Linked DNA regions of Homo sapiens: all the other regions are reported to be linked to region 1. Evidence: microRNA targets listed by miRTarBase, many of them from high-throughput screens and not tested one by one. Region 1 holds a microRNA gene; each other region holds the end of a gene's coding sequence.

What was found. The annotated mature microRNA hsa-miR-124-3p reads UAAGGCACGCGGUGAAUGCCAA and lies in region 1 at 2,919-2,940, opposite strand. An mRNA with a match to its seed (bases 2 to 7 or 8) in the 3' UTR can be bound and repressed. Matches are read on the target gene's strand: a 7mer-m8 pairs with bases 2 to 8, a 7mer-A1 pairs with bases 2 to 7 and ends in A, and an 8mer does both.
Region 2: the mRNA of FRAS1 is a reported target of hsa-miR-124-3p. Seed matches in the 3' UTR shown: 7mer-A1 at 5,420-5,426 and 7mer-m8 at 5,105-5,111.
Region 3: miRTarBase lists GNG10 as a target of hsa-miR-124-3p. Seed matches in the 3' UTR shown: 7mer-m8 at 3,450-3,456.
Region 4: miRTarBase lists ARPC1B as a target of hsa-miR-124-3p. Seed matches in the 3' UTR shown: 7mer-m8 at 976-982.

The regions. Positions count from the first base shown.
Region 1 is chr20:63,174,376-63,181,491 of GRCh38, reverse strand. MIR124-3 (microRNA 124-3) reads right to left here and starts at 2,992; the gene lies at 2,906-2,992. RefSeq lists a silencer at 2,208-2,497 and enhancers at 2,785-3,745, 6,646-7,116.
Region 2 is chr4:78,540,711-78,547,826 of GRCh38, reverse strand. FRAS1 (Fraser extracellular matrix complex subunit 1) reads right to left here. Exons shown (of 74, transcript NM_025074.7): 74 at 3,558-7,116. The coding sequence ends at 6,703. Among named protein-coding and RNA genes, the nearest start is that of ANXA3, 7.5 kb to the left of the region's middle.
Region 3 is chr9:111,666,467-111,673,582 of GRCh38, reverse strand. It overlaps GNG10 (G protein subunit gamma 10), which reads right to left. Exons shown (of 3, transcript NM_001017998.4): 2 at 6,637-6,768; 3 at 3,357-4,314. The coding sequence ends at 6,643. It overlaps DNAJC25-GNG10 (DNAJC25-GNG10 readthrough), which reads right to left. Exons shown (of 3, transcript NM_004125.4): 2 at 6,637-6,768; 3 at 3,357-4,311. The coding sequence ends at 6,643. Among named protein-coding and RNA genes, the nearest start is that of GNG10, 8.4 kb to the right of the region's middle.
Region 4 is chr7:99,393,693-99,400,808 of GRCh38, forward strand. ARPC1B (actin related protein 2/3 complex subunit 1B) reads left to right here. Exons shown (of 10, transcript NM_005720.4): 9 at 337-427; 10 at 759-1,124. The coding sequence ends at 797. It overlaps PDAP1 (PDGFA associated protein 1), which reads right to left. Exons shown (of 6, transcript NM_014891.7): 4 at 6,611-6,732; 5 at 4,170-4,321; 6 at 981-3,048. The coding sequence ends at 2,990. Among named protein-coding and RNA genes, the nearest start is that of PDAP1, 11 kb to the right of the region's middle. RefSeq lists an enhancer at 144-815.

The DNA.
Region 1 (7,116 bases):
TCTGCCCTGGCCAGAGACCTGCCAGGGGGCTTGGACTTGAGGGGAAGGAGGGTGGGGGCTCCTGGCCAATGGCCACACAGGGAGCCCTACCTGGAGGTGAGATCAAGGTGGAGACCAGGGGCTGCAGAATAGAGGGACTGGCTGCCCTGGCCCCTGCTGATTGTGGCCTGGCCCCTGCAGCTCCTCCCACCTCTGCTGCTCGTGGACCGGGGGATTTGGAGGAATTTCAGAGGGGACTGTGGGGCCTGTGGCTTCAGCCTCAGCAGCTTTATTAGGTTTTATTCAGAATAAAAATCTTTGGGTCAGGGAAGGGATGTCTTCCTCTGGTCCCACACTGGGGAGGGCCCTGCTGGATAGCCCTGAGCTGGCCTTGCTGGGTGTCATGGTCTGGTCAGAGGGTGTCCCAAGCCCTTGGCTCAAGTTTGCTGTCCACCAGGACCACTGCCTGGCAGCCGACCCAATGCAGGCTGGGTGCTGAGGATTCAGTTGGGGGTATGTGCCCAGCTCTTCCTGAGTGGAGGCGGGCAGTGTCTGTGTGTGCGTGGGAGGTGAGACTGTGTGAGCATGTCTGTGACTGTGGCTGCGGGTGTGAGCAGGAGGAGGAGAGGCTGAGCTGGACATGCAGGGCAGTCCATGTTGGCTGCAAAGCATGGTGATGGTGGCCCCTGCCCCAAGGGCCTCTCACTGAGGCCAGCAGCTCAGCTGCTGCAGGTCCGAGTGGACCCTGTGGCACATGGGGCCCTCCCCGCACTGCGGCAGACGGTGCTACAGCTATGGTAAGGCCTGGCCCAAGAAGGTGCGCACTCAGCTCTGCAGCTCCTTCGCAGTGAGCTTCCCCCCGTGTGCCCCATACCTACTGGGCTGCCCACCTTCCTGTGACCCCCTGAGCTCCAGCCCAGAAGCCACAAGTCTGCCCTGGGGGCTGGGGCCCAGGTGCACCACTGGGGGCAGGCATCAGGAGAGGTAGCTCCCTGACCGTGACAGAGTCCAGGAAGCTCTTCCTAGGAGACCCCACAGAGACTGACTGTCTAGGGACAGTGCCAAGGGCAGTTTGCCCATGCGCTCCCACCAGCTCTCAAGTGTCCCCCTCCCCAGGCTACTGACATGGAAGGTCCATTCTGGCTAGGAGCCAAGTCCCCTCCCCAGGAAGGAAAGTGGTACAAGAACAAAGCCCCAGCCCCCATCTCTGGCCCCAGAGGAGGGAGCAGCCAGGGGCCACCTTCCCTCCGAGGGAAGGGCCAGGCTGGAGGTCAGAGCTCCAAGAGGAAGCTCCAGCTAGGCTAGGGCCACATCTTGTACCCCGAAGGAACACCCCACTCCCACCAGTCCCTTTGGTGTTGTCCTGGAACGATCCTGGGGCCCCTTCCCCTTCTCTAGGACCAGAAGTGCCCCTGGGGGATGCTGCCTGTCCCCTCACAGCGGGAGGAAGGAAGAAGGGGACGCCAAGCCCCGGGGTCAGTGTTGTGGTCAGGCCGGGGCTTGCTGGGGCTGCCTATGCCACTTCTGTGCCCTCCAGGGGGAACCTGCCCCTGAGGAGACTGGTGGACCGTGTTCTGACTCTGCCTGGCTGACTGGGGTGGGGGTGGGAAGATGGAGGCACCAGTGGCTCCTGCTTGTGTCTGCAGCAGGCGACTTGGGTGGAGGGGCTGGAGGTCTGTGCTGAGGACAGCCGCAGAGGCAGGTTCCCTTTGTGGCCCTGCAGCGGCGGTGGTGGGGGTGGAGATGCCACTGCCTGAAACTCAAATGGTTCCTTTTATCCTGATCTTCTGCTCCCTGCCTTGGGCCTGGAGCTGGGAGAACTTCAGGTGACTCAGACTCCTGCCTCGGATTGAAGCCGGGGAGGAGAGGCTCAGCCTCTACCTGGTTAAGAGGAAAGAGGCAAAGCTGCAAAGCCAGGTCTGGCACTCGCCCCAGGGGAAGGGGGCTTTTGGGGAGGGGGTCGTCCTCTGACTGTTACCGGGGCATCACAGCCCAGCCGGGGCCTGGGATGGGCGCGGGGGAGGCGGCGCAGAGGCGGTGCCGGGCGTCAGCAGGTGGCGCTGGCTTCCGGGGACAGAAAAAAAACCCCTGCAGCAAACCCGAGTGGGTGTCACTGCGGCTGCAGATGGCGGCGGGGGAGGGATTTGTCATTTTCTCCCTGGGCTGCGGAGTCTCACGTGCCTGGTCCTGCACAGCCCAGAGCCGGCTTTGGGGGCGGGATGCGGTCCGGCGTGTCCACCGCCCTCGTTTGGACCCTGGACGCGGACGCAGACCCCCGTCCCCATGCAAGCCTGGTCCTGGGCTGCGGGGGCTGCTCTGGGGCCACAGCGAGCGCCGCCTCCGCCCCGCCCCGCGGCGCAGCGGCCCGAGGAAGGGCAGACTTAGCGGTGACCTCAGACCCTGCCCCACCTCCTCCCACGTTGCCGTGGCAACTGTCCAGGGCGCCCGCTGTGGGGGCGAGGGCCGCACTTGGCCGCCCTCCCGTCCCGCGGGGGCCGCCCCGCCGCCAGCACCGCGGACAGCGCCGCACCCTAGCCCGCCGCCCCACGCACCCGCCCGCCGCTCCCCGTGGACCCTCCCTTTGTCTCCCGGGCCCCGCCGCCCTCTGCGGGCGCCTGGGCGCTCCGCGCTGCGGACACACGTGGCCGGGGGCCGGCTGGCCGCAGCCTGGCCCCGGCCGCAGGCTCCCCCCTCGGCCGCCCTCGGCCGCCCCCACCCGCCCCGCGACGCCAGAGGCGTGCGGGCCCCTTTGTGTCCCGCGGCCAGATCCCCGGCCCGGCAGCTGGGCCGCACTCTGGGCGGGCGCATTGTTCGCCGGATTTGTCCGCGGCGCGAATGGCCGCCGGGGGCCGGGCTCGCCTTCCTCCCGCGGGAGGGGCGCTGGGCCGGACGGGCTCGCGGGCCATTTCCATGAGAAAGGAGCGGCGGAGGCGCCTCTCTTGGCATTCACCGCGTGCCTTAATTGTATAGACATTAAATCAAGGTCCGCTGTGAACACGCAGAGGGGCCCTCAGGGCTGGGGCGGGCGGCGAGCGTCGGGGCCAGGGTCGGGACCGGCTCGGGCTTGCGTGGGGTCCTCGCCCGAGGGGCGCGAACGCTCAGGCGTCTTCGCCGCGTGGCGGGCAGGGCGGGGGCGCTGCGCTCAGCCGACTGTGCTGTCCCAGTCCGCCCCCGACTCGGAGGAGCCCACACTTCTCCCCTTTCCGCGGCAGAGAGTGGGCCCCCAAGTGCGTCCCTCCGGGCGTTCCTGGAGCTGGGGCGCCCGGGAATCGCGAAGACGGATTCCGGGGGTGGGGGTGGTGAGCGCGTGCGCACCCGGCCGCCTCCCGCGGGGCTCCGAGGGGCGCAGAACCGCTCCGACTGGGCGGCGCGAGCTCCTCCGCAGCTGCCTTCCCCTGCCGTCGCCCTGCCCGTGCCGACCCAGGAGCGCGCACCGAATGCGGTTAAAAGAACGAATCTCGATGCTCAAAGATGAAAACTCGTCTCTTTTTACAACCCAGCGAGCTCGTCCTCTCCGCGCGCAGCGGGCCCGCGAGAAGGCGCTCGAGCTGTTCGTGGAGAGAAAGACGGGGAGACCCAGAGAGGCCGCTTGCCCGGCTCGCCCCGGCCCGGCCCCGAGCGTAATTACCAGTCCCGGCGGGAGCCGCTGCTGCCGCCTCCGCTCCCTGCGCCTCCCGCGCCGCCGCCAGTTCCCGCCTGCTCTTCGGCTCCCGGGGGCCCCGCGCGCTGCTGCCCTGGGCGGAGAAGGGCGCGGGAACCCCGAGAAGGGAGCCAGGCAAGTCCCCGAGCGCCGCAGGCCGGCTGCGAGCCGAGTGTCCACGGGGTCCACGCTGCAGGCGCCCAGCTCCTGCTAGCCCGGCCCGGCCCCGATGCAACTGTCCCCGCGCCCGCCGCCGCCGCCGCCGTCGCCGTTGCCTCCGCGCGTATCCGCGCTCCGCTCCGGCACCGGCCGATTATCACTGGGGCGCGCGGTGACGTCACCCGGACACCGGCCCCGCCGCTGCCTCCCCGAGGTGTCCTTGAGAACTGCGGGGCACGCGCGCCGCGCACACGCGCACACACGCACTGCGCGCCTCGTGCCTCCCGCGCATTCGCACCGCGTCCCGCCCCGCGCGCTCCTCGGCTCACGCGGACTCAGCCATCGAGCGCCCTCGACCGTGCCCTGCGCCCGGCGGCCACACGGAGACCCAAGGAAACGCCTGTCTCCCACACACTCCAGCCCCTCACATGGCCCTCCTGCACCCACGCGCGCAGCCCCTCCAGCTGCACATTGACACCTCTAGCCACACCCCGCCACGCGCACGCCTCGCCACGCGCACGCCTCGCCGGCACGCAGCCCAGCGGCACCCGCAGACACGCACCCGCACTCGGGCCCTGACCGCGGGTTCGCGTCTCCTGTCTGGCGCCTGCAGAACGCACTCTGCCGCGCAGCTCACACCGCGGTCCTCCAAGCCTCTCAGTCCTGAGAAAGGCAAGGGTCCCGCCGGCCTCCTGCGGATGGCCCTGCTGGGCTCCGTACAGTGGGGTGGGAATTAAAGGTCGTCCTTCCCCGCCCCCATCGGAGCTTGCGGTTCTCACAGTTTCAGACCGGGATGGGAGCTCTTGCCCGTAGGGACCACGGAATCACAGGCGACACTCCACGGCCCGACTGCAGTCACTGCCAGCTCGATAGGGTCCTTGGGGCGCCCCCGATCTGGCCCTCTAGGGCCAGGGATCAGTGGCTTCCCCAAGCCTCACCGTCCGGAGCCTCCCCCGCTGGCCTTTGTTTAGACTGCAAGGAGCGCAGGCCGGCGCGGCCGGCAGGCCTCTGTCCCCATCTCCTTCCTCCTAGGGCCAACCCAGCCCCTGCGCCATCTGCCCTCGGAGCAGAGCCTGGGCCTCCCTGGGAGCAGGTCCTGCTTCCTTCCTTTTCCACCCTCTCCAGCACTGCCCAGCCCATGGACAGCCGGTTAGGAAGGGCGGCAGGAACTCGGGTTGGTTCTGCCCGCACCGACTCCGCCGGTCCTCAACCATCAGGACGCCCCTCCCCCTTTGGTGCGGCTTCAACCTGACCCTTCCCAGCCGCAATTCCTCGCCCTTCGCAAGTGTCAGGGACAATCTTTCTTTCTCACAGGTCACGCACAAGCCCTCTACTCCTCCACAGCCCAAGGGGAACCTTCTGTTCCAAGCGCAAAGCTCTGGAAGCTGCCCCAAGCCTGCGGGTGCCGGCAGCCTCAGCAGGTGCAAGCCGGACGCTGGAGGGGCTGGAGGGCTGGGGAGGCCAGGCTGCAGCAGCCCCGCTTCATTGGAGACAGTTGCCCTTGGCCTCCAGTGGTCGGAATCGGACCCTCACCCTAATGAAACGGGGGCAGTCCCCAGGGCGGTCCTAGGCTCCCAGTCTGAGGCATCCGCTGTCCATGGTGTTGAAACGGAACCCTGAAACCTCCGCCTCACTTTCGGACTTTATACCCCCAGCCCTCTTCTCACCAAGGGTTGGGGCCAGGGAGGCCGGCTCCCGGCCCCCTCCCCTCCCGTCCCCCACCCTTAGCTTCCTGGACGGGTCCAGGACGCCTCGGGATTCCAGCTCCTTGGAGCTTGTTCCCATTCTAAGGGGAAAGACTCCTTAGCACCCCCCATCGGTACCTTGGCTTCGGGGACCCCAAATCTTTCTTTGGGTCTCTTTTCCGTACAGGACCGGCTCCACCTGGGGCAGGGTGGATCGCCGCCCCTGGCAGACCTGTTCCCTCACCTGGCGGAGCACCTTCGTCCTTCCCACTTTACCTTTGGCGGAGGGCTCTCTGGCAGGCCGGGGTGGGTAAGGTGGAAGGCTGGGGGTCGCCCCCTTCCCTTGGGTCACCCTAGATTTTTGTACATCCCTAGAAGAACCCGGCCCCTCTTGGAGTCCTGAGTAGCGATCGGGGTCCCCGGCTCCCCACTTCCACCCCCGGTGTGCAGCGGCCCCCAGCCAGGCGGGCTGGGGGAAGGGCCGTCCAGGGCTTGGGGGCGGAGCCGGCCGGTAGGAGCCGCGCGGGAAGGGGAGCCCGCCTGCAGCCTCTGCCCCGCCCGCCCCGCAGAGTCCGCTCCGGTGGGGACCTTTTCGGTGGCCCCGCGAGCTTCGTAGGTTTCATAAAAGTCAACTTACTGCTGCCGGGCCCGGGCTGGGGTCTGTGCTTCCCCCGCTCCGCGGGGGCCTAGTCTCGCCTTGCCCGGCGCCTTCTCTCCGCCGCCGCCCACGCCGCCGCCTCTCCGGAGCACACGGATAATTTGTTTGTGGATTTGTTTATTTGCCAGCTCCGGGGACAGTGGGGGAGTGAAAAGGGGCGCGAAGGTGGGGGCGGCGGCGCTGCCGGGCCAGCTCGGGCTCCCGGTTCCCGGCGGCCGCCTCGGTGCGCACAAAGGCCGGCGCGCAGCGGGGCCGGCAACTTCGCTACGGGTCAGGTGGCTCCGGCGGGGGCGGGAGCGGGAGGAGGGGAGGAAACACGGGCCGAGACCCCCACCCCCTCCCCCTCCCTCTTGTCCGCCATCCGTGAAAGCCTCCGAATAGCGTGGGATTAAACAAATCAACAGAACCCGTGGAGAACCCCTCCCTTTCCGCTCCTTCTCCCTCGTCACCACCCGCTCCTCCTCTGCGGGAGGCCTGTCATTCCTCCAGAAAGAGGAAAGGCCGCGGCCCACATCTGGGAACAGCTGGCTCACCACCTCTTGACCCTTGACCCTCGCCTCCTTTGGAGTCTGCTGCAGACCACCCCCCACCCAGCCCCTGCAGCATGCGGAGGTGGGGAGGATGTGGAAGGCCAGATGGAGGTGCCCACAGTACAGATGTGGGTGGCAGAGGGGGTGGGGACCCTTGCCTCCCAGTGGCCCACAGCTTCCCAGTTCCAGCTGGGGTGGTCAAAGGAGCTCAGAGGCCCCCACCCAGTGCCTCACCCAGGGATGGCGGAGACTTCTGTCTGGCTCTGCAGCAAGGCCTGGGTCCCCCTCCCACCCAGCATCTGTGACTGTGACCCCAAACATCTCCCCTGTGGGTAAGGGGGCCTCCCATTCCTCCCACGCCAGGCTTAACCTCCAGAGGTGGGCAGATGCTTGGTGCCATGAGGAGCAGGGGCCCCCGAAGGCCCATCCCACCTAGCAGGGGCCCTCTTCCACCCCCAGGAGCTC
Region 2 (7,116 bases), not on the chromosome of region 1:
AGAGGGGCTCCTCACATCCCAGACGATGGGCGGCCAGGCAGAGACGCTCCTCACTTCCCAGACGGGGTGGCGGCCGGGCAGAGGCTGTAATCTCGGCACTTTGGGAGGCCAAGGCAGGCGGCTGGGAGGTGGAGGTTGTAGCGAGCCGAGATCACGCCACTGCACTCCAGCCTGGGCACCATTGAGCACTGAGTGAACCAGACACCGTCTGCAATCCCCGCACCTCGGGAGGCCGAGGCTGGCGGATCACTTGCGGTTAGGAGCTGGAGACTAGCCCGGCCAACACAGCGAAACCCCGTCTCCACCAAAAAAATACGAAAACTAGTCAGGCGTGGTGGCGCGCGCCTGCAATCGCAGGCACTCGGCAGGCTGAGGCAGGAGAATCAGGCAGGGAGGTTGCAGTGAGCCGAGATGGTAGCAGTACAGTCCAGCTTCGGCTCGGCATCAGAGGGAGACCGTGGAAAGAGAGGGAGAGGGAGACCGTGGGGAGAGGGAGGGGGAGGGGGAGGGGGAGAGGACATTTTATTATTAGTGATGCTTTCCAGGTTGTGTTTATTGCATCCATGTGGTGAAAATAGGGCATAAGCCGGGCGCAGTGGCTCACGCCTGTAATCCCAGCACTTTGGGAGGCCGAGGTGGGCAGATCACGAGGTCAGGAGATCAAGACATCCTGGCTAATACGGTGAAACCCTGTTTCCACTAAAAATACGAAAAATTAGCTGGATGTGGTGGCGGGCGCCTGTAGTCCCAGCTACTCAGGAGGCTGAGGCAGGAGAATGGCATGAACCCGGGAGGCGGAGCTTGCAGTGAGCCGAAATTGCGCCACTGCACTCCAGCCTGGGCGACAGAGCGAGACTCCATCTTAAAAAAAAAAAAAAAACCAAGAAAAACAGAAAGAAAAAATAATAATAATAATTTAGCCGGGCATGGTGGCACATGTCTGTAATCCCAGCTACTCGGGAAGGCTGAGGCAGGAGAATCGCCTGAACCTGGGAGGCGGAGGTTGCAGTGTGCCCAGATGGTGCCATTGTACTCCAGCCCGGGCAACAAGAGCGAAACTCCGACTCAAAAAAAAGAAAAGAAAAATAGTGCATAAAGTGGTACTACTGTGCATCTCTTCCCAACTCCACATTCAGTGAAATTATGCTAATGGGTTGTATTCAGCCATAATGGGAGTATATACAACACAAAAACTAGGAAATACTGTAAATGGAGCTTCCCTTTACCCGAAAGGTCAGTTGTGAAGCATTTATCAGCACATCACTCTTTATAATAACAAGCAAATTTAAAATTGAGACAAGATTTGAGTTCAAGTATTTAATTTTGATTTACATTAGAGAAGTGGAACCAAATGGCACTGAATTTAAGGACTGTGTAAGAGTTTGGACAGAAAGACAGAGTACTTAAAGGGTCTGAATAAAGAGTCAAATAAAGGAGCTATTTACAAACGCATGGGCAGAGTTCGGTTAGGTATCCACAGGGATGATATAGTCTCCAAGGACTAGGGACAGGATGAAATCATGACTAGCCTTGCGTGGGCAAGGGAGGGAAGGGGTTTCATCAGAACCCGTGACACCTGTGGCCAGGGAGGGATGCAGCCACCCCAGAATCACAAGGCAGAAGGAAGCAGGGAGGAGGCTAAACACACATCATCTTCTCTCTCATCAGTGGTTCCACTTGGCCAACCTCAACCAGAAGCAAGAGGCAAGGGAGCCTTGAAGAAGCAGTTGATGAAAAGTCGGTTTCCCAGAGCACAGGGCAGGGCAGATTCAGTGTGCAGCAACAGAATCAGCCGCAGAGGGACTCTTGGGAGTTGCTAGTATCCAGCACTGGTTCATTTTTAAAGCATTCCTTAGTGGGATGTTTAAGGGAGATATCTTGATACTAGTTTTTAACAATTTATTAAAATTATTCCAGAGACTGAAATTCTAATAACTTCTATAACTTGCTGAGTAGTCTTGGAACTGAGATATCTTGATACTAGTTTTTCACAATTTATGAAAATTATCCCATAGACCGAAATTCTAATAACTTTTATAACTTGCTGAGTAATCTTGGAACTTGGCCTTAAACCAAAATGAGCCTAGGGATAAAATTCTGCTAGCTTTTTTAGAGAGGGTTGCAGCATAGGTCTATTTTGTTGTATTAATCAAGTGATGTAATTTTTCATGACAAGCATTAAATTTAGGTGATAGGAGTTGGGACCATTTTAAAGCAACATCAAGTTGTGCTTGTGAAGGCCTTCAAAGATTTGAAATTCTGAAATTCATATGAAACTTTCAAAGGAACTTATCCAGGACAACTATGTCTCACGGGGTTGTTATGAAGACTGAATGAGGTACAGAATATAAGTGAGTCATTGTTCTTGATCGGAGCATTGCCAGATATGCCCAATATATCATTTGATATAGTCCCTGTAACAGTCCTGGGGCATTAGCTACTCTCAGCACACAGGGTTCTAGTTAAGAGTTCTCTGTGGCTCATTTGGGGACAGAATCTCTATTACATATTGTGGTATCATAATATTAGGTTGAGACATACAAAACTATTGATATTGGACTATTTTTAACCTATCAAATCAATTTCATGTAGTTGAATGTAATAACATATTCCAAATATAGTCTCCTTCCACCACTCCCAGTGCATTTCTTCAAAAGCAGTCTATGAGGCATTTTAAATTCTAAATGGGAACTCATTTTCTGCCACTATTCCTCAAGATCCCTAAATTTTATGGCCATGACATTTCCAGTCTCAGAAGCATTTTTATAGACAATCCTAACAATTCTTAGATTAATTCCTGGTACAGCTTCTCTGCACTCTAGAGAAGTGAACTCCAGGGCAGAGAGTCTGCTCTAAGGCAACGGATAATCACAGGAAATTGTGAGGATTGGAAGTTTACATTAAGCTCCTGGCAGCATCTCAGCAACTTCCAGGATTGGTTGTGGCATCCCTTCCCCAGATTTTCTATAAACATGCTTTCTCAAGTCTTGCTGAGTTTGCAAACGTGCCAACAGAGCCCTGCTGGTCACTGTTATTGGCAGTTATTTGTTTTATCAGAAGGGAAAGGCACACAAATGCACAGGCTTGCAGAATGCAAAGACCAGCTGGGTACAGCTCCATTTTGACTCTGATTTTTCCTTCCATGAGCCTATAAACTCTTGTTTGGAGCTTTGGTCTTTTCCAGGGTCAGTGATGGATGCTCAAATATTTGCATGTGCACAGAAGGACATAAGCCACCCTCATACTATATCATGTCTCTTTAGAAGTTTTGATAATAAATACAAAAATCATCTTATTATATGGCACATGGAAATTTTAATTATTCCTCTTTGTCTCAGAATTTCAACTGATTGCCAAAGACCTATGATAATCTGGAAACATATAATTTATTCAGCATCTTACTCTGAACACAGTTAATGAGCGTCTCAGATTCACCCTCATTAGAAGGGTTTTCTCCAGAAGACCGCTTCAAATTTAGAATGAATTTTGGCATCTTAATGGCAATGTCTATATTCATAAGAGATATAATCTAAAAAGAACATAGGAAAACAAACAAAAAACCAACAAGACTGTCATTTATTAATACAAATTTATATAGTGGCATATACTATTGGAGAAATCAGAAATTCATAACACACAAATTCATATTGGAAATACAAAAATCATTTGAGAGTCAAGAAATCAGGTTGACAGCACCACAAATGTTTACTCAGTCTGAGCAGGTGTGTAGTATCCAAGAATAACAAATACCTATAGCAGACTGAGACTGAATATCATAAGACTGTGCAAACACATTCCAACACTATTTCCCACCCAACAATAGAATCTGCAGGAGTCCTCTAGGAGGCCTGGGGTACAATAAAAGGGCAGCAAAGCAGAATGGTACAGACCATTCTTTCTTTTAACCTTCACAGCCAGCATATAAAAGCAAGTAGTAACCACTGAGAGTTGTTTGTTCCTTCTCACTTGAAGGCAAGATATAAAAGGTTAGTAAAACACACACAAGGCATTAGTGAGCAAATCAGAGAAATTGAAAGCAGAGCTTTGACTGAAATATAATCCACATTAGTCATCAAATTACTTGATTCCTATAATGAAGTATGAAACAAACCAAATGAATAATTCTACATCAAAGGGGTATATCTCATCTCCACATCTCTTAACACTATTTAACAAGTGTGCATCCACTAGAGAAGTACTGGCATTCAATAACATACATTTAGTGGGGTGAAAGGCAGAAAGAAAGGGAGGCAGAAATACTGCAAGGGCTTTCCTTTCACACACAGTTTCCTATCTCACTCTTGCCCTTGTCATTTCAGACCTTGTACGTGGCGGTTGCTGGGAGCACTCTGGGGCTCAGTCTTTAGTCCTTCCCACTCTAGCTTCATTCTGCCACCTCTGTACTCTTCCCATGCAATGTCCTATTCAGCAGTAATGGAAGGGGTGTGCAAGAAGAATATGTGGGCAAATGGAAAGGTGCTGCTTTAACGTGTAAGCATTCTGGCACTTGGAGCAGTTACACAGTTACAAATAATGGGCCAAATGGAAGTTCGCTCTACAAATTAGCATTCACTCTCTAGGTTGTTCTGGAGATTCTGTGCCTGGCTGATCAGCTCTCCAGCCATGAGATACCAATTCTGGGTGTCCATGAGGCTGATACAGGAGTTCTGCCCTGAATTGCCCAAGCTGGTCTTAAGTAGCACCTGACCAGTCAGGAGTTTCAGACTCTGGGCTCACCCCAACTCATTCTCTCCTGAAAACCTGACACTCATCTCAGAATGCTAAATTAGATTTTGCTCTAAATCTCCTGTTCTGGATGCCAATTCATAGTCTCATCTCCTGCTGATGATACATTTTTATGAATTTTCTGCTCATGCTTCCTTAGGACCACCGCCAGAGTCATGCCTTTGTAAAGCGGTGTTTCTTTCCTCCAAGAAAAGGTTATCTCATAATCCAAGTAGAGAAGATAATTGTTTTCCTCTCTCCTCCCTTGTGATATTGCCACCATACTCTCTCACTTCCCCTTCCTAAATTTACTCCCCATCATTCACCCATGACACCATTCATTCATTCAACAAACATTTCTGGAGTGCTTGTTACATGCAAGGCACTGTTGAAGAATGAAAGGCGTGGCTCACAAAGGTCCTACTTTCAAGGAGCTTGGAGTCTCACAGAGCTGCCTAGAACCTTTCACAGTTCATCCTTTCTAGCTTTTAGTAGCGAAATGTTACTAGTTTGGAATGTTCTCAAAGAGCTTGAGTCATTCTCATACAAATATTACACAATGTGAAGGCTCTGTTATTTGCTTGGTGACTATGGTGTGCCATGCATCAGAAGAGGACATGTCTTTTACTCTCGAATAATGAAATTGTGCCTCCAATTCAAAACAACATGGCATGCACGCTTATGTTTCCGCCAATAAGGCAGAAACAGAAGAGAAACAAAAGCAAGCTGTGTGTAGCCTACACAAAATAGTTAAGCTGATACTTGAACACTAAATTATTTTAGAGCCATGTGTTCATGGCCTTGTCATGTGCTGATATGGTAAAAATAATTGCCTGAGCTACCAGAAAAGAACCCCTCAAAGAGAAATCCCTGAAATACTGCACCAGGAATAGTGCCTCTGTCTGCTGTGTCACACACAGCAAGGAGAACCAGCATGTATCTGTTAAGTCTGATTTCACCCCAACCTGGGCTTTCTCCTAATTTGCCTTATTCAAATGAATCACTTACTTTCCCGAAGCACTAACAGAATAAAAAACCATACCTAGGACATGGGATTGTCTGTTACAGGAACGGGCAAAGACCGGAGTAGGAGGAAAGTGTGGTGGGTTTTCTTTAAAGCATTTATGGCAATGTTGAATTAAAAGGCCGTAGTACATTGATCCTGTTTCGCAGCATCCTTGGTCAGGGATGGATGTCTCAGTGCCACATAAACTAGTTGGGAACAGACACCTCCCTGGGGTGAAGGGCATCACTAATGTGCTCTGATACGCCTGCCAGGCCCCTCCTTAACTCGGGTTTCAGTCTCCCCCTTTGTAGGAGGGAGTTCTCTGTGGCTGAGGAGGCAGAGGCTCCCGTGGTTTTCAGAGGATTTTACTTAAGCACACTGAAATCCCCAGGTAAAAAGGGCTCTGGAAAAGCAAAGTACAATTAGAGGCCAAGGAGCATACGCTGTCAAGTGAAATCATGAGCAAATATATGTGTTGTGTCGATTAGCAGAATTTTTAATGGAATCTGGGTGTCAGCAGTTCATACTCTGCTGTCTGGGGACTCAGGAAAAGCCCTGTAGGAGAAAGCTGGGGCTGGGGGAGGGAACCAAAGGCCCGTACCTACTTCTTCTCTCTGAGATCTGCCATGGTACTCTACCCAGTCCTCTCATCTCCATCTGCTAACCTAATTGTTCAACTCCTGTCCTGATACTAAAGTACTTGTTTTCTAAGACCAGCCTTACAGAAGGAGCTGTGTACAGTTGTTGACACTATTAAAGGGATCTACGGAAATAACTGTAATACTCTGGGGTTCTCAGTGGTTCTTTGCTGAATGAGGTAGCTCAGTTGTGAGTTGATGCATGTGATGTGTGCTGTCTGCCACTCAAAGCTATAGTTTTCCCTTTTTTATCTGCGAGATTATAAAAATACCAGTATTTCCCCCCATTTTATAAAAATGATTTTAGAAAAAAATACACATAGGTCTCCTCCATTAAACTTCTGTTCCATCTTGTAAATTGTTGTGAACTCTGACTTCTAGATTCAGTCTTTTGACTTTAGCACCTTTGAACGTGTAAGCCGCCTCAGGCTCACTCAGGATGTTGACGTTCCGCACAGTGCAGTAGTGTCTATTCACGTTCTTCTCCACCCGGTCCGGGTGCCTCTTGGGCACTTCTACCTTGGTATTCAGAGGATATTCTTCCAAAATGTCCTCTGCGGGCTTCTTCTTCCTCTGTTTCTGGCATTTCCTGTTGATAAAACAAGCCACCAAAAACACCAGAAGTAGAAGCATGATTGCAGCCAGGGCACTGCCAATGGACGCCCCAGTCTGTGACAGGGACGCAGCTACCGCCAACTCTTGCATCTCCAGATTCAGGGACTTCATATTGGTGCCATTCTTGACTTG
Region 3 (7,116 bases), not on the chromosome of region 1:
GATCTCAGACTCCTCAAATCTTATTTCTTTCTGATTGGGATTTAAAGAGATTTTGCCAAATTCCTCTCCCAAAGGGTTGTAGCACATTACACCCTAATAAGGTATAAAACTGCCCAGTCTCCTTTATCCTTACCAGCAATGGTACACAGCACAGTGGTTTAGGGTGTGGGCTCTAGAGCTAGACTGCTCGACATTGGATACTAGTTCTATCATCTATTAACTGTTGGCTTACGGACGATGTTCAACTCACCTGCGCCTCACTTTCCACATTTGTGCAAAGGAGATAAAGCAGATATTCTTATCCAAATTTAAAAAATAATTATGGGTGATGAAACTGAGACCCAGAGAATTTGATTTGTTCAAGGTCACACCAATAAGGAGTAAATGACCTAATACACATAAATACTCAGAACATGGCATGTAAGTTCTTAATGAATATGCACTTTTATTTTTTGTTTTCTAATTTGAGGGATTGAAAAATGATACCTCATTATCACCGTCTTTACATTTCCCTTGCTTACTAGTGGAGTTATGTGCTCTTTTGTTTGGATTTTCTCCTCTGTGAATTGCTTCTTCACACCGTTTACTCATTTTTTTCTCATCATGCAATCAGAATATTCTGTATATTAGGGATATTAGCCCATTATCTCTCCTATACATGGCAGGTGTTTTCTCTGTAGTGCAGTTGTGCGATCTTGGCTCACTGCAACCTCTGCCTCCCAGGTTCAAACGATTCTCCTGTCTCAGCCTCCCGAGTAGCTGGGATTACAAGTGCACAACACCATGCCTGGCTCTGCTTTTTTTTTTTTTTTTCTCTGTAATGATTTTTACAAGAGGTTTTTTTTTTTTTTTTTAATTAAAAAAAAATAGAGACATGGTCTCACTATGTTGCCTAGGCTGGGATTATAGGCATGAACCACCATGCCCACCCCCTCCTCATGTTTTACACACACACACACACACACACACACACACACACACACACACACGATTAATGATTAATTAAGCAGAAATTTTATTTAGTAAGATCGACATTTTAATGAAATTGTCTTTTTTTGTTGGGGTTTTTTTGAGACAGATTCTCACTTTGCTGCCCAGGCTGGAGTGCAGTTGCGTGAATACAGCTCACTGCAGCCTCAACCTCCTGGGCTCATGCGATTTTCCTGTCTCAGTCCCCCAAGTAGCTGGGACTACAGGTGCATACCACCACATCCAGCTAATTTTTGCATCTTTTGTTGAGATGGGGTTTCACCATCTTGCCCAGGCTGGTCTCGAACTCCTGATCTCAAGCAATTCACCCACCTCGGCCCCACAAAGTGCTAGGATTACAGGTGTGAGCACAGCACCTGGCCAAAATTGTCTTAATATCCTAGAATTGCCATGTCCCTCCATTTATTTACACTCCGTTTTATAACATCAATAAAATCTTTTTTAGGGACCTTGCACTTTTGTTAAGTTTATTCCCAAGTATTTTTATAGTTGTATCATTAAAGTAGAAAGGGAATATAACTTCCATTTCCATTTTAAACTAGCTATTGTCAGTATAGAAAATGTTATTTTTCTGTCTTTTTTATCCAGCTAGCTTCCCAAATTCTATTATAAATTCAAGTATTTCTTGTACGAGAATCTCACGAGTTTTCAAGGTGTACAATTATATAACCCATAAATACAGATAATTCTTCTAAAATGTTTACATCATTTCATTTTTTCAGCTTACTGCATTAGCTAAGACTTCCAAAGCAATGCTGAATAATAGTGGTGATAAAAGGTATTCTTGTGTTGTTCCTGATAATCTGAATGTGTCAGCCTTTCACCATGTAGTATGATATTGGCTGTTGGCTTTGAAAAATTGTCTTTATCATCATAGTAATTTCTTTCTACTCTCATTTCACTAATCCACTTAGTTTTTATTCAGAACAGCTTTTTTTTTTTTTTTTGAGACAGGGTCTCTCCCTCTGTTGCCAGGCTGAAGTGCAGTGGTGTGATCTCGGCTCACTGCAACCTCCGCCTCCCAGGTTCAAGCGATTCTCCTGCCCCAGATTCCCGAGTAGCTGGGACTATAGGGGCGTGCCACCATGCCCAGGTGATTTTTGAATTTTAATAGAAACGGGGTTTCACCATGTTGGCCAGGATGGTCTTAATCTCTTGACCTCATGATCTGCCTGCCTTGGCCTCCCAAAGTGCTGGGATTACAGGCGTGAGCCACTGTACCTAGCCCAGAACAGCTATTGAATTTTATCAGATGACTTTTTGGCATAGGTTCCCTTCTTTAAGTGATTCAAGTAATGAATTACATTGATAGATTTAGTTATGTTAAAGTAGTTTTATCCGGCTGTACTTTCTCTAACTACTGAATTTTATCTGTTTATATCTAGGACATTTGCATCTATATTCATCTATAAGTGAGATGCTTATAGTTTCATTGTGCTATCTTACCAAATGTTTGCTGAAAGGGGAAAGTGGAATCAAAAAAGAATTTTGTTTTTCAATGAGGATTTTAAAAAATGCTGTTGTTGTTAAGACAGAATGGAACATGCTAAATTGTGATAGAAAGGGTCCACTGGAGGCCAGACACAGTGGCTCACGCCTATAATCCCAGAACTTTGGGAGGCTGAGGTGGGTGGATGGCTTGAGCTCAGGAGTTCAAGACCAGCCTGGCGACATGGCGAAATCCCATCTCTACAAAAAATACAAAAATTAGTCGGGTGTGATGGTTCACGCCTGTAGTCCCAGCTACTTGGGGGCCAGAGGTGGGAAGAACACTTGAACCTAGGAGATTGAGGCTGCAGTGAGCCGAGATAGCGCCACTGCACTCCAGCCTGGGTGACAAAGTGAGACCCTGTCTCAAAAAAGAAAAGAGAAGAGAAGAAAAGAGAAAATAAAGCATCCAGCAGAGAACTTGAAGATGAAGGAGAAAGGATCACTGGTAGTGTGCAATTTCAGAGAAGGTGAAACAGATCCAGAGAACAAATAGGTTATAAAAGGGATGCCTGAATTATGACTGAATGGAAGGGATTCCAATCACTAGATCTAGAAGTTTAGTAGCTAAAAGTTAAGGGAGTTCCCATCTAATAACTTCTATTTTCTCTATTGTAACACTACTTACACTCACAGATATTTTTGTTTATTTATGAGTTTATATATAGCTATTTCAGAGAACAAATGTTGCCATTAATAGAGATATTTTCTTCATGTTATACAGTTATCTATTTTTCAGGACATTTGCAAAATTCTACAAAGACTTAAAAACAACAATTTCACTCTCTCATTCCAGCACTCAATCTCACAGGCAAACAGAAATCCTTGAGTCCTTAATACAAAATCAGACACAAAATATTGCTGTCATAGAAAAATGATTAATTAAGCAGAAATTTTATTTCCAAGCTCTTCAAAGACCGTTGCAAACACGAATAATGTATCCTTCTAAAAAAGTGTCCCAAATTAAATCAAAGGCACATCGTCGAAGTAAAACACTTGTGAAGTTAAGAATTCTTTTAGGTTGTAATATTTTCATGTTAGTTTTTAATCATTTACAATGTTCTGTGGGTCACATTTTAAACATTTTTAAATATATGAAATTCTGTATTTCTTTAAGTACAGCCACAACTACAAAGCAGAGAAACGTAAGAATACAAAAATCAAATCTGCTTCATTTATATACACGATGGGGCAGCCTAATGCACATCATAACATTAACTTTTCCAAAGAAGTTTGCTAAGAATCTGCTCCCATAATTAGTGTTAAAAATAAAGCAATCTTCCCATTTAGAAAAATCAAGACATCAGTTGATTAATAAAGCCTATTCTTCCTCCCAGCAATTTGTACTTTCTGGTCTTCATTTAGGAATTATAAATTCATGACAAAAGAACAAATTTTTTATGGAATAAATAACTTCCAGGAACAACAGTTTATAAGTATTCAGTTGTTTAAATAAACAAAACTATTTTCCTTCCTAAAATGTAAACATCCAGTAAATGAAACATACATGATATTCCAGGTATAGAAATCTTAGTAACTCACTTATGAAAGAGGTGCATTTTGGTATGTTTGGTGGTAAGGTTTTTGTTTATCTTATGTATAAAAGTACTTGCACAAAAAAAACAAGCAGTTATTACTATTTAAAATTCTATTCCTTCACCCAGTTTTCTCACTCAAGTAGAAACTCATGAATATCTGTGATTTTGGCTATAGGACCAGGCCACAGGAAAGGGCTGAAATATCTCTAAAAGTTAGGGAAAAGTGTTTTCTTGAGACTTGAAGGCAGTCATTCATCACTTTGTGCTTGAAGGCATTCCTCAGCAAACTTCTCTCCTACTGGAAAAAGAGTTTGTTTGGTTTTCACTTTAGTAAGATTTCTTTATAAAATTAACTAGTCATCATTTAATAGGGTACTTTAGTATTCACGAAATAGAAAGCAACAGGTGAGCTAGGCGCGGTGGCTCACGCCTGTAATCCCAACACTTTGGGAGGCCGAGGTGGGTGGATCACCTGATATTGGGAGTTCAAGACCAGCCTGACCAACATGGAGAAACCCTGCCTCTACTAAAAATACAAAAAAATTAGCCGGGCATGGTGGCGGGCACCTGTAATCCCAGCTACTAGTGAGGCTGAGGCAGGAGAATCGCTTGAACCCGGGAGGCAGAGGTTGTGGTGAGCTGAGATCGCACCATTGCACTGCAGCCTGGAAACAAGAGCAAAACTCCGTCTCAAACAAAAAAAAAATGAAAGTAACAGGTGAATACAAAAGACATCTAAACCACACCACTGAATGAGCAGCACCCATGAAAGTGCTTTGTAAGGCCGGGCGCAGTGGCTCACGACTGTAATCCCAGCACTTCGGGAGGCCGAGGCAGGCAGGTCACCTCAGGTCAGGAGTTTGAGAACAGCCTGAGCAATACGGTGAAACCTCATCTCTCCTAAACATACAAAAATTAGCCAGGCATGGTGCTGCACACCTGCAGTCCCACCTACTCGGGAGACTGAGGCAGGAGAATTACTTGAACCTGGGAGGTGGAGGTTGCAGTGAGCCAAGATTGTGCCACTGCACTCCAGCATGGGTGACAGAGTGAGACTCCATCTCAATTTAATAAAGAGAAGGAAGGAAAGAAGGAGGGAAGGGAAGGGAAGAAGAGGGGAGGGGAGGGGAGGGGAGGGAAGAAGGAAGCTTTGTAAAAAGAAAAATGCTATGCCAACATAAGACTATTATCTTAACACCATAAATATGAACATTTTCCATTAAAAAGTACAATAAGATTTGATAGATTGCTTCCTTCTTTTAAATGTGAACAATTTCCTTTTGCTACTTGTGAAGAAGGACCTAAGATAATTACTCACTGTATAAACACCCCTTAGAACACATCATTTGAAATATGTTGGTCCCAAAAGACTCTAATAATTCATGCCCTTGTCCTCTTAAAAAAACATTGTGTCACGCCTGTAATCCCAGCACTTTGGGAGGCCAAGGCAGGCAGATCATGAGGTCAGGAGTTTGAGACCAGCCAATTCAAGACCAGCCTAGCCAACATGGTGAAACCCCATTTCTACTAAAATACAAAAAAATTAGGTGGGCATGGTGGCATGCGCCTGTAATCCCAGCTACTCGGGTGGCTGAGGCAGGAGAATTGCTTGAACCCAGGAGACAGAGGATGCAGTGAGCCAAGATCGCGCCACCGCACTCCAGCCTGGGTGACAGAGCAAGATGTCTCGGCGATGAGGGGGGAAACACATTGTGAAAATGACCCCAATACAAAGCATTCGAACCCAAGAAGTTTCTAATATGCCACCAGAGAGGTGTTTTCATTTATCAATTTTTAAAGCTCTTTTAACCCCACTCACACTTTTTCCCAATAGCTATATTTCTTCCTCCATTAAAACAGAGATATATTCTGAAAACCATTGGGAAAGAAATCACAGCGGGTGGTAGGCACACATCTCCCACTCTGGGGAGTCCTTATTCCCAAGAGTAGCAAGTCAGTTGATAGCACTAAGTAGCAAATCCCAACCCTTGGATGCTATAAGGACAGAGAGGGTGGGCTTAAGGTCAAGAAATTACTGGCCAGGTGTGGTGGCTCACACCTGTAATCCCAGCACTTTAGGAGGCCGAGGCGGGTGGATCACCTGAGGTCAGGAGTTCGAGACCAGCCTGACCAATATGGTGAAACCCCATCTCTATTAAAAATACAAACATTAGCCGGGCGTGGTGGCAGGCACCTGTAGTCCCAGCTACTCGGGAGGCTGAGACAAGAGAATTGCTTGAACCTGGGAGATGGAGGTTGCAGTGAGCCAAGATCATGCCACTGTACTCCAGCCTGGGTGACAGAGCGAGACTGTCTCAAAAAAAAGAAAGAAAGAAAGGAAGAAATTACTACCAGCCAACTCAAAGAGCTCAAGTACAGAAGGATGTTGGCATCTCATGACTTAGTGCCAGAGAGACTTCAGACTGTCCTGATTAGATGTATTCTACAGGCAAGGTAAATATACACTAGAATCACACTTCAGGGAAAGTTGTGCATTTTGCTGGCTCTTGTTTTAATTTCCCCAAGAATAGGAGACATTCAAAACTCAGTTGCTCAAGTCCTTTGGGAAGCCCTGTGATAATGCTATGGGCCCAAGACATCATGGTGTATCATTACTCACGAGTCTTCAGAGTAAAGCACAGGATCTAGGCTCCCGGAAGGGGTTACTTCCAGCTGGAACACCCACCAGCAGGGCATCCTTGCAGGCATTCTGCATACAGTACTGTTGAAGCTCTGCAGCTGCCTGAGAGACCTGAAACAAAGGGACAGCAACATGGCACCCTGCTCACAGCCAAGCCACCCGGCAGTCAAGGATATTCTGAAAACGATCATCCAACTTGGTAAATATCAACTTTTTGTGACCTCCAAAAGTCTCTTTCTGCTGAAAGTTCTAATACTTGAACTACAAAGAGAAAAGGTTACAATTTCCATGAACGTCAATTTAGATATTTTTTGGTTTAGTTGCTTATTCAACGAAGACAAGAAAAAGCTGTATCTTTGATCCATTTAGAAATCTAGTTTTGAGACTGAACGGGTAAAGAAATAGCTCATTCTAGCATTCCCTTTACAAATTTTTACTTATATAAAACATGCATCAATA
Region 4 (7,116 bases), not on the chromosome of region 1:
GATGAAACACCTTTGTCCAGCTATCAGCTTAGTCCCTGGCTGCCCCCACCCCCATCTCCTTTTTTGTCCTGTCCAGCTGCACTGCTGGCACTGTGTACACTCCGCAGACACACGTGTCTTTCCTGCCTCCCAGGACTTGAGTGTCCTGTCCCATTTGCCTGCACCTCGCATGCCACTGTCCCCAAGGCAGAACTGACTTCTAAGCCCACTACACCCCCTCGGTACTTCTCACTAAAGCCCGCTCCCCAAGAAGTCTGGGAGCGCCTGGTGGACAGGGTGGGCCTGAGCCCAGCGCCAGCACAGGTTGAATTCATAAGCTCCTCTTCCTCTTTGCAGCCAGATCTCGGTGCTCAGCGGCGGCAAGGCCAAGTGCTCGCAGTTCTGCACCACTGGCATGGATGGCGGCATGAGTATCTGGGATGTGAAGGTGAGGCTTGCCCCTCCTGGCTTCCCGCCATGCCTCCCAGGTCAACCCTTTCCCCCCATCCCCACTCCCTGGAGATGACCCCCATCCTTCACTCCTGCAGAGATGGCACTGCATGGGGATGAGGGGTGGGGGCGGCCCCTTGACATCTGGGCCTTGGTGCTCACTGGGGCACCCGTCTTCAGGGCCGGGATTCCAACCCAGCTGACAGACTCCAAAACTGCAGGTTCTCTGCCCTCTGCTGTGCTGGGGCTGAGATGGGTGATCAGGTCCCTGGGAGTGGGGTGCCTGCAGGACAGCTGAGAACCAGCCTGTCCGTTCTGCCTCCCTGCAGAGCTTGGAGTCAGCCTTGAAGGACCTCAAGATCAAATGACCTGTGAGGAATATGTTGCCTTCATCCTAGCTGCTGGGGAAGCGGGGAGAGGGGTCAGGGAGGCTAATGGTTGCTTTGCTGAATGTTTCTGGGGTACCAATACGAGTTCCCATAGGGGCTGCTCCCTCAAAAAGGGAGGGGACAGATGGGGAGCTTTTCTTACCTATTCAAGGAATACGTGCCTTTTTCTTAAATGCTTTCATTTATTGAAAAAAAAAAAAAATGCCCCCAAAGCACTATGCTGGTCATGAACTGCTTCAAAATGTGGAGGTAATAAAATGCAACTGTGTAAAAAAAAAAAAAAAAAAAAAAGTAATTATGGACATGCTTGCCTATGTGGAAGGAGAGGTTTTTTGTTATTTCCTTGGGGTCTTGCTAAGTTTTCCAGGCTGCACTAGAACTCGTGGGAGCAATCCTTCTGCCTCAGCCTCCCAAGTAGCTGGGACTCCAGGGAGAGATTGGTGTTTGCACGGCCATAGGTAGATAGCTTATTTTTACTGCTTGCCAACAAAATTGATCCTGAAGCCCAACGGCCTTATGCCAAATGGTTCCCTCCCCACTGCTGTCCATCCTGGGCTGCCACTCCCAAAACTGCCAGTACCAGGTGTCACTGATTGACTAGTCAAATTCCTGGACAAAGGGGCTACACACTCCAGGCTGGTTGTGGAACTTTTGTTTTGAGATGGAGTTTTGCTCGTCACCCAGGCTGGAGTGCAGTTGTGCGTTCTCAGCTCACTGCCACCTCTGCCTTCCTGGGATCAAGCGATTCTCCTGCCTCAGCCTCCCAAGTAGCTGGGATTACAGGCATACACCACCAAGCCTGGTTAATTTTTGTATTTTTAGTAGAGACGGAGTTTCTCCATGTTGGCCAGGCTGGTCTTGAACTCCTGACCTCAGATGATCCACCCACCTCACCTCCCAAAGTGCTGGGATTACAGGCATGAGCCACCATGCCCGGCCTGGTTGTGGAACTTCACGGGAATTTATTTTGTCATTACAATGTTGGCAAGATATTTTTTTCGTGTGCTGTAAACTGAGGTTCTGTCTTGGAGTTTATGTCATGTCACCAGGTCCTGTGCTGAAGGGCATTTGCACATCTTTTGTGGCTTCTCTCAGGAAAATGTGGGCCTTGGCGACATCCAATGCTAGTGCTATTCCCCTTCTCCCCTAGAGTTACAGAATTATAACCACCAGGGGACACCTACAGGCCAGGCCAGGCCAGGATCCTGGTGCTGCTTCAGCCTACTGTGGCCTGGAAGGGTCCCTGCCTGCTGAGGCCTAAGATCCTGACTTGGCTAAAGGAGGGGAGGGGGCAGGCTGTGGTATCTAGGGTCCATCCCCGCATCCTGCTCGGTGCCACCTGACAGATGTCATGCCCCAGGTAGGTATGTGCCCTGAACCTTGCCGGGTGCACGTGCCTGAACGTGGCACCGTACCCAGCTGGGTAAAAACGGCTCGAGCACGGAAGCCAAAGGATGGATTGCCAAAACAAAGATTACGATAATGTCAAGTTTAATCTGCCAAATATACAAGTTGAATTTGTGGAGCATGTTTTGCCTGGGTGCCACACAGTAAACAGAGGTTTCTTGAAATGATCAATGGGTAGGGCTGAAAATGGGCACTGGCCCTAGCCAGGTGAGTAGGAACCGGGCAGGGAAGGGCAGAGAGGTGAGGCCCTGAGGTCAGTCAGACAGGACTGACCAGGGACAAGCCATGACCCTCGAGGACCCAGGGGCACAGGCTCCCAGATGATAGCCCCTCTCTGAATGAGCACCCAGGCAACACAGTCCGGGGCTGTGTGTAGCAAACCTGTCAGCAGCTGCCTCCTGGGACAACCACCCCCTTACATGCTATCTATCTACCAGACAAATGAAAGCTCTTCTTACCCCATCTCCCAGGCACCCCCCAGCAAGGGCTCTGAATTCTAAAAACAGCAAAAACATTCAAATGGTTACATATGAAATGCTGTCCTGCATCTTTCTGTCTCAAAGATAGCAGCTACCCCTCCCCCAGTCCCCCCCCCCATCCCCCAAACAATTTCTGTGCCAAGATGAAGAGGAGGCCCCAGGCCATGGGGGGCTCCTGGCCATGAGGGGCTGTTGCAGCGGCGCCAGGGCACAGGGTGGGCGAGACACAGCAGAGGTCCTGGCAGCGCGGCCCAGGTCCCCGGCATCTCCTCCCACGGGTCGCAGTTACTTATTCAGGGAGAGTGACTGCATTCGTTTTCCTGACAATGTGGCATCGTCTTTTGCTGAGGGGTGGGAGAAGGGCAGGGGTTAAAACAAAGCAACCCCCCACCCCCTCCCAACACACGTGCCAGAACCCTAGAACTTTAGGTCTGAAAGGCTGCAGAAAACATTCTGTGCAACAGAGAAGAGCCGAGGCGTGGGAGAGGATTTCTGCTGCAGCTGTAACCCCGGGCCCCCCGACATTCCCGACACGCTTCAGTGGCCAGACCACCTTATAGAAAGCTGTTCCTTCCACAAAGCCCCACCAACACACACTCTTGTGGGCAAACGGAAACTTCTCACCCCACCTCCCAGCAGAACCCTGTAATTCTAACCTCCCTCCACGGGTTCTGAAGTCTAAAATTTAAACATTCCAACAGTTACATGTGAAGTCCTTTCCTGCTTGGGGTTTGTGAAGCAGGGTTGAATGGGAAGTTGGGATCACTGGATTTCTGGTGCGGGTGACAATGTCCCTGAGCAATTGGTTTCCCCTTTCCAGGCCTGCTTCCTCATGGTCTGGTGAGGAGGCAGGACAGATGGACATGTAGGGGCTCTCACAGACCCCCGGGAGATGGAATGTTGCAAGTTGAATGCTCCTATAAACTGGACCAACTCCCATAGCCACTCTGGCCTAGAGGAACCTCCACCATCTCTGGCCTGCCTGGAGGGGAGAGCACAGGAAAAGGGATGCCTGGGCTGGATGTCAAGCCAGTCTGCACTGCTGTGTATCCAGCTCACCCTCCCAAGCCCTGCAGATGGACAGCGGTGACCTCAGGCATCTCTCCTGGGTTCCCAAGGCACCAGAGACCTTAGTGGGACCTGTGAGCCTCAGGCAAGGTCTGTACTAGGGGCATGGTTTCCTGTGACCTCCCGCTGTTGGGAGCAGGAGTGACTGTCCACCTACTGTGGACGGTGCTCTGCTGAGACTTCAACCTACATCCGACCCCATGATGTCGCTGGACCCTCCTGGTCCCCGAGGGAGTGGCAGGCACAGGGAGGGTGGCCCTCTCCTGAACGACCTCCTAGGCAGCAGTCACTCCTCACCTCATTGTCACCTCGCGGACAGGGACACGAGTTCAGTGCTTTGTGGCTGGCCCAGGACCAGAGTTGGGGCCTGTCCCTGCGTGCGCAGCCCAGCCCTTACCTTTCCTTTCCTCTTCCTTCTTCCGGGCAGCCTCCTCCCGCTGTTTCCGGATGATGGCCAGCCGGGCCAGGTCAGCCTTGGCTTGCTCTGTCTTCCCGGCCAAGTGCATTTTCATGTAACGCTCTTTTGCCTTCTGCTTCTCAATCTCTTCTCTGTGTGGATAAAATGGTGTCATGGGGACATCTTTCCTACCACTGTTTGCCAAACTGGACGGGAGTCAGAATAAAGGCCAAGGATTCGGCCTAGGGCCGAGGTGGAAGGGGTGCCCTGGCTGTGAGTCCCTGCCTCCATGAACCCCCTGCTTGGTGGACGTTCACCAAGCAAGTGAGCAGGAGGGAGAGGCCCAGGGAGAAAACATCTGCGATGTCCAGAAAGCCTCAGAGGGAAAGGGGACAATGTCCAGCTACAGCAGGGAGGGGAAGATGCCTGAGGGCTTCATGATCAGGCTCTGGCGGCCATGGAGAGAAGGGGGACCAGGCCAAGAGTGTTCCAGAGAAGATGACCAGGAGGATGAAAGCAGTGGGGACCACATCCTACAAGGAAGGAAGGGCTGGGCATGGTGGCTCAGGCCTGTAATCCCAGCACTCTGGGAGGCCAAGACAAGAGGATCACTTGAGGCTGTAAGTTTGAGACCTGCCTGGGCAATATAGCAAGACTCTGTACAAAATAGAAAATTTAAAAATTAGCCAGGTGTGGTGGCACACATGGCTAAGGCAGCATGGCTCCCAGCTACATGGGAGGCTGAGGCAGGCGGATTGCTTGAGCCCAGAAGTTCAAGGCTGCAGTGAGCTACAATTGCACCACTGCACTCCAGCCTGGGTGACAGAGTGAAATCCTATCTCTAAAAAATACAAACAAAAAAAGGAATGAAGAAGTGGAGGAAGCAGCCACAGGGCATAGGATGAGGACCACAGTGGGAAACAGACACACCCAGTCTCAGGTCAACACCACATGGCCCATTCTTAGAGCAGCTCAGATGTGCACGGTGCTGCCCCCCAAGGGGACAGCCCCCATCAGTAGGGAGATGGGAATAATTGCTGGGCTCCCATGGGACAAAGTGTCAGGAATGAACCCCCTAAGTAGAGTCAGTGGTGAGGGTCATTAGCTTCCTTTTGAGGATCTTCCCAAGCTTGAGATTCTGAACTGGAGTGGATGCCCTTCAGGATGAGATCGGAGGGCCTATTTGCACTGGGTTCCTGGAAGAGCCAAGTGCTGGAGGAGGGGAGGGCCCTGCCTGGCAGGAGGCTGGGAGAGAGACTCGGCCTCCCAGAGGCCTTCAAGGTACACAGAACTGGGGAGTAATGAGAAACCAGGCATGGGAGCTAGCTAGAGGGGAGGGAGAGGGACTCCCGAGTGGGAAGAGCAGATGCCTCACTACAGAGCTGAGGAGATAATACCTGGCGAACCGCAGATCCTAGCTCAGGAGGGATGTGCCACACTCAGAAGCCTCTAAGCTGAGCCTCAGGAATGATGACTAAGGCAGCCCAAAGACTCTGCAGGGCCCTTCAGTGAAAGCAAAATGCCAGGCAGGGTGTCTCTGCAACCCCAAAGGACAGAAGGAGGGAGCAACAGGATCCCTTTTACTGGAGAGGACACTGATGCCCAGAAAGGCACAGCCTTATCGAAGGCTGCACAGCTGCCAATGGCAGAATACCACAGTGGCAGAACACCCAGGTTGCTGGGTTTTTGAAGTCAATGCCAAGAGGAAGCTACTGAAGGGGGACAGAAGGGTCCTTAGCAGCTGCAATCACACCCAAGCTCATGGCCTTCCCCACGAGGCTTTCACAGACACACCCCTCAGCCATTATCCTAAATTCCCAGTCAGGAGAGAAACTAGCAGGCTTCAACCTCTTGTAAGGCCCTTGAGGTCACCTGGTGGCTGCCAAAAGTCAGGGCACCAGTCAAGGACTGATCCTGTGCCAGGCACTTCAGTACATGATCTTGATCCTCATACGACTCTTGAGGAAGATATTTACAGCTTCATTTTCACACAGGACTTGCAGAGGCCTGGGACAGCTGGCTGAGCTGCGCTGGGCTGGACTGCCTTCTGGCCGGCACAGGCTCGCAGCCCCCTTCCAGTCCCCATGGCCACGACATTACAGATGGATGCAGGTCAGGAATGGTCAGATCAGTGGGGTAAGGGAAGTCTCCCCAGGGTGTGGTGCTCTGGAAGAGGGGAATGGAGGGCAACCCTCTGTATCCTGCACCATTACCTCAAGTGTTATGCTCAGGTCTGAGCCTGTTGTCCTATTTCCCCTGATATCATGTATCAATTGGTGAAAACAAATTCTGTGTGGCTTTTTAAAGGCTACTGGAGGGCCATTGGGGAATGAGACAGAAATAAACAGCCACAGCTCCCAGCCAGCTGGGGACCTTAGCATCCCACAGGCCAACTGCTGGCCTGTATTCCCCGTGACACAAGGCCCAGCCAGTGATGTTACCGTTCTCTCCTCGAAAGCTCCTTTGGCCCGTCCAGATCCAGTTGTGTGACCTTTTTGGTTGTCTGTGCCACCCGGTTGGGGTTCTCGATGTCGATGAGCCCTTCAACGCCTTTGCGCTTTTGCTAGAACAGGGCAAGAAGCTGGTTGTTGGAGTTCAGGTCCTGTGGAGCCCCTGAGGGCCACTCCTGCCATCTCTCAACAGCCCATCTGGATGAGGACAAACTCCTGCTCCACCCCAGCCCACGTAGTGCTCAGCCCAAGTCTCACAGTGGGTATAGCTCTCTGGAGCATCTTCATCAGCCTGGGAAGAGCCCACAGAACGGCTGCTCGGGGTCGAATAACTTGCCCAAGTCAACCAGGAAGTAGGTGGTAGATGAGAGGTGCGCCCTACCCCGACTTGCAAGCACTCACACAGCACTACTCCCCTACTTCAAGCTCGGCTTCCAAAAGCAGTTTTCCATGGAATCCCATGCCTGATTCTTCTTGCAAAAAGCGCTGGGCTGGAA